2 separate regions of the Homo sapiens genome follow, and region 2 is linked to region 1. Evidence: fine-mapped expression QTL. A gene starts in region 1. The other region holds a variant in brackets. All regions are shown on one strand. Distances are from middle to middle.

Evidence for each region.
Region 2: its variant is fine-mapped to the expression of LINC02721 in lung (GTEx, PIP 0.96).

What each region holds. Positions count from the first base shown.
Region 1 is chr11:33,820,993-33,823,912 of GRCh38, reverse strand. LINC02721 (long intergenic non-protein coding RNA 2721) reads left to right here and starts at 1,539. Exons shown (of 3, transcript NR_183773.1): 1 at 1,539-1,919.
Region 2 is chr11:33,857,825-33,860,744 of GRCh38, reverse strand. LMO2 (LIM domain only 2) reads left to right here. Exons shown (of 6, transcript NM_005574.4): 6 at 1,170-2,169. The coding sequence ends at 1,389. Among named protein-coding and RNA genes, the nearest start is that of LMO2, 33 kb to the left of the region's middle. RefSeq lists a silencer at 2,593-2,766. The variant A/G (reference allele first, on the strand shown) is at 1,275.

The sequences.
Region 1 (2,920 bases):
CATTGAACTCATTTTTGACAAAGGCCCCAAGAACATACACTGGGGAAAAGACACTCTTTTCAGTGAATGATGCTGGGAAAGCTGGATATCCATAGGCAGAAGGCTGAAACTAGACCCATTTCTCCTTCCATATACAAAAATCAAATCAAAATGGATTAAAGACTTAAATCTAAGACCTGAAACTATGAAACTACTATAAGAAAACATTGGGGAAAATCTCCAGGACATTGGTCTGGGCAAAAATTTCTGGAGCAATACTCCACAAGCACAGACAACCAAAGCAAAAATGGACAAATGGGATCACGTCAAGTTAAAAACCTTCTGCACAGCAAATGAAACAATCAACAAAGTGAAGAGATAACCCACAGAATGGGAGAAAATATTTGCAAACTACCCATCTGACAAGGGATTAATAACCAGAATATATAAGAAGCTCAAACAACTCTGGAGAAAAAAAAATCTAATAATCTGATCAAAAATGGGCAAAAGATGTGAATAGACATTTCTCGAAAAAAGACATACAAATGGCAAACAGGCATATGAAAACGTGCTCAACATCATTAATCATCAGAGAAATGCAAATCAAGACTACAATGAGATGTTATCTCACCCCAGTTAAAATGGCTTTTATACAAAAGACAGACAATAACAAATGCTGGTGAGGATGTGGAGAAAAGGGAACCCCCGTATACTGTTGGTGGGAATGTACATTAGTACAATCACTATGGAGAACAGTTTGAAGCTTCCTCAAAAAACTAAAAATAGAGCTACCATATGATTCATCAATCCCACTGCTAGGTATATACCCCAAAGAAAGGAAATCAGTATATTAAAGAGATATCTGCACTGTCATGTTTGTTGTTGCACTGTTCACAGTAGCCAAGATTTGGAAGCAACCTAAGTGTCCATCAACAGATGAACGGATAAAGAAAATGTGGTACATATACACAATTGAGTACTATTCAGCCATAAAAAAGAATGAGATCCAGTCATTTGCAACAACATGGATGGAACTGGAGATCATTATGTTAAATGAAATAAACAAGGCACAGAAAAACAAACATCACATGTTCTCACTTATTTGTGAGATCTAAAAATAAAAAAAAAATTGAATTCATGGAGATAGAAAGTAGAAGGATAATTACCAGAGGCTAGGAAGGATACTGAGGGTGTGAAGGGTAGGTAGGGATGGTTAATGGGTACATAAAATAGTTTAAAAGAATGAATAAGACCTAGTATTTGATAGCACAACAGGGTGACTAGAGTCAATAATAATTTAATTGTACATTTAAAAATAACTGAAAGAGCATAAATAGACTGTTTGGAACACAAAGGATAAGTGCTTGTGGGGATGGATACCCCATTCTCCATGATGTGATCGTAACTCACTGCATGCCTGTATCAAAACATCTCCTGACCTTGTAAATACATATATGGGGGGACACCTATAATGTACCCACAAAAATTAAAAAATAAAAATAAGGGGAAGGTAGGGTGGCCATCATGATGGTCAAGCAGTGACAGGCTGGGGCCAGGGTGACAGTTGGCAGTTGGAATGGGGGAACTGTGAGGAATCTGAGAAGGTTGGAAGTCAGCCCTGACCAGAGGGGATGGGATGTGAGAGACGGATGTCAGGTGGCATGAGGCAAGGGAAGAATTTCAGAGGCAGGAAGAAAGTACACATAATAGCTCCCTGAGCAGAAACAGAAATGGGAAGGGAATATGATCTGAGAGAGAGTTTCATCTGCCTTTACAATGCCGGAGGCAGAGATTGGCACACAAGGACAGGGTCTTGTCTTCTGGTAGCTTGTCTAATACAGGACACAGGCAAGCTCACAAGAAACTGCCTCGTAGGGCTGAGTGAAATTTGCTGATAGAGCTGCAGAATCACATTCCTCAAAGACAGGAAGGAGCTTAACGTAAGTTTGGGTTCTCTGGACCTGAGATGAAGGCAGGGCGTCAGGAGGAGGTGGCCAGCCAGTCTGGGGGGTTTAGGGCAAACTGAGAAGGGCGAAGTGAGTCGGGCACTGAGATTTATGAAATAAACGCACCAAGTTGTGTGAATAAATGATCAGGGAAAGAGAGAGTTGCTTGAGGAGGAAAGAGAAGCCAAAGACCCTGGATCACTCAGAGAACTGGAGACAGCATGGGGGCTTGAGCCAAACTGCCGGGATTTGTTCTGTCCCTTGTTGCTTGTGTGTTCCTGGGTCATTATCACCTTCCCTGTGCCTTAATACCTCCATCTGTTAAGTGGGTACTATTATAGTATCTATAGCAAAAGCTACATAAATTGATAAAGTAAAATGGCGGGATGTTGCTTGGTTCATAGGAAGGGTTCCATCAATGTTAGCCGGCCTCAGTGCGTTAAGAGGGACAAAAGAGAGGCTGTAAGCCACACTGAGCTAGTGCAGCGTCACTGAAGTTCTAGTACGGAGAGGGCTTTAAGAAGTAGAACGGGGTCAGGATGACCATGGGGAACACATAGTGTGCACATGAATGCATTATTTCATTAATTCTATGCAACTCTGTGCGAGGAACTACTATCTGCCCAAGTTTACGGATGAGGAAACCGAGGCTCATAAACAGAAAGTGACCAGCACCAGGTGGCTTAGCCAGACACATGCACAGCTGGAATTTGAATCTACGACTGTACAGTCCTACAACCCATGCACCCACACTGCCCTTTAGGAGCCACCCAGCAGCATGAGGGGAAGGAACAGGCTGGCCCTGGCAGTGTGGGGCTGTAGCCAGCTGTGCAGATCAAGTGGGCAAAGAAGAAACGATGTGGCAGATGTAGGTCACTCATCTTGAGACCTCTGGTCAAGAATGAGGGGCCGGGCATGGTGGCTCAAGCCTGTAATCCCAGCACTTTGGGAAGCTGAGGTGGGTGGATTACCTGAGGTCGGGAGTTCAAGACCAG
Region 2 (2,920 bases), 37 kb before region 1:
AGGCTGGAGTGCAGTGGCATGATCTCGGCTCACTGCAACCTCCACCTCCCGGGCTAAAGCCATCCTCCCACCTCAGCCTCCCAAGTATTAATAGCTGAGACTAGAGGCATGCACCACCGCACCCGGCTAATTTTTGTATTTTTTGTAAAGACACAGTTTCACCATGTTGCCCAGGGTGGTCTCGAACTTGTGAGCTCAAGTGATTTGCCTGCCTCAGCCTCCCAAAGTGTTGGGATTACAGGTGTGAGCCACTGCGCCCAGCCTGAGAATTTGTATTTCTGTCAGGTTCCCAGGCAGTGCTGATGTCGCTGGTCCCAGGACCAACACTTTGAGAACCACTGCACTGAGCCCTGCCATGTTCTGTCTCCCACCTTGACACTGAATACTGCCTGAAATAAGTGACTGATCAACTGAGGCTTGGGAGAGTCTTGATTTAAATGTCAGAAAAGAAGTTTCCCTTTTGATTCATGCCAGTGGGCAGCGAGGGCCATGAATTAAGATCCTCCCTTCATGGTGGAGAGATGCTGTTGGTCCTCCATATCTCAGAGGCACGATTAGCTGCACCGCGTGTTTTCTGTGGAACTCCCTGTCTCCCAGCAGCTGGGGCCCCAGCGAATAATCAGGGGGAGATGTGCTTTGCAGCTTATGGAGGTATTCAAGGCCAGCTCTCCCCATGGGTAGAATCAGTGGCTGTTGACATGATAGAGTTTGGGAGCCTCAGAAGAATGCCCGTTTTATTGCATTCCTGGTCAGTACCCTCTCAAAGGGGCCCCTAGGGTCTCTCTCCAGCTGCTCTTCTGAAATGAGGGTTCCCCTGGGAGGGGACAGGTAATACTTGCCTAACTCCTTATGATAGATCACATCAGCTGAGAGCCTTGCCCACAGAGGAGGAGCCAGGGGGCAGCCTAGGGGAATGATGAGCGGTTGCTGCAGACAAGGAGAGGGCTCAGAAAAGGGAGGAGTTATGCCAGATCCAAATGCCAGTTTCATCTGAGTTCCCTCTGCCTGCTGGTGAAGACTGCACTAGCCGGCCCTCCTTCTGGAGCCGACCTTCCCTGGCTTCCTGACATCCTGAAAGTTCGGCCTCCTTTCTAGGGCTCATCCCCGAGCCCTGTCTTCCAGGATTGTCCCTTTCACTGTCTTCTTAGCTTTTCTTTCTTTTGCCCCAGGCTTTTTGGGCAAGACGGTCTCTGCGCATCCTGTGACAAGCGGATTCGTGCCTATGAGATGACAATGCGGGTGAAAGACAAAGTGTATCACCTGGAATGTTTCAA[A/G]TGCGCCGCCTGTCAGAAGCATTTCTGTGTAGGTGACAGATACCTCCTCATCAACTCTGACATAGTGTGCGAACAGGACATCTACGAGTGGACTAAGATCAATGGGATGATATAGGCCCGAGTCCCCGGGCATCTTTGGGGAGGTGTTCACTGAAGACGCCGTCTCCATGGCATCTTCGTCTTCACTCTTAGGCACTTTGGGGGTTTGAGGGTGGGGTAAGGGATTTCTTAGGGGATGGTAGACCTTTATTGGGTATCAAGACATAGCATCCAAGTGGCATAATTCAGGGGCTGACACTTCAAGGTGACAGAAGGACCAGCCCTTGAGGGAGAACTTATGGCCACAGCCCATCCATAGTAACTGACATGATTAGCAGAAGAAAGGAACATTTAGGGGCAAGCAGGCGCTGTGCTATCATGATGGAATTTCATATCTACAGATAGAGAGTTGTTGTGTACAGACTTGTTGTGACTTTGACGCTTGCGAACTAGAGATGTGCAATTGATTTCTTTTCTTCCTGGCTTTTTAACTCCCCTGTTTCAATCACTGTCCTCCACACAAGGGAAGGACAGAAAGGAGAGTGGCCATTCTTTTTTTCTTGGCCCCCTTCCCAAGGCCTTAAGCTTTGGACCCAAGGAAAACTGCATGGAGACGCATTTCGGTTGAGAATGGAAACCACAACTTTTAACCAAACAATTATTTAAAGCAATGCTGATGAATCACTGTTTTTAGACACCTTCATTTTGAGGGGAGGAGTTCCACAGATTGTTTCTATACAAATATAAATCTTAAAAAGTTGTTCAACTATTTTATTATCCTAGATTATATCAAAGTATTTGTCGTGTGTAGAAAAAAAAACAGCTCTGCAGGCTTAATAAAAATGACAGACTGAAATACAGTGTTGTTTATTTGATTACGACTTATAATTTGGGATGGCGGGGAAATGCTCTGCTTTTTCTTTTCTAAAGGAGAAGCAAATAAGCAATTTACTCTTAGGTCAAATAAAAACTTCTGTGTATTGCAAGGGTTTGTATGAGGCAGGCACATTTCTATATTACTGGCAATTATGTAACAGGTCATCATGTAGCTCAGAGGAATGTAGAATAATTAAATTGTTATTGTACAATATGCATTTCACTTCAGCATTGTATGGAGTGAGTGGAAGGCAAGATCATTGCCTTTGGGAAACTTGTAACCTAGAAAGGACACAAATACATAAAGCAGATTCCCTTTGGGAGAGAAGGTAATTACCTAGTTTGAAATGTGGCAAAGATGCTGAGCTTGACACTTCGATTTTCCAAGACGGGTGTCTCAGGGTGTTTTATGACAAGTGGTTAAGAGGACCTTTACTTTGCGGATTTAAAGCAGGCACCTTGGTTTGTGTGTTTGCCTTCCCCGGAGTCAGGCCGCCCCCATGAACTGATGCAGAGCGCCACCTTCTGGCCATCACCTTAAAGCGCGCTAGCCCAGGAGGGTCCCGACGTAGGACAAACCTAGATGAAGAAGAATATGCTTTTCAATGATTTCCTTAGAGTACTCGGAAATGCAAGAAGTCTAAATGTGTTCAGTTATTAAGACACAAGAAACATGCAGCTAAGGCTGCATGTTAACTATAAGATTCCTTTAAATCTTCCTAAGGTTTGTG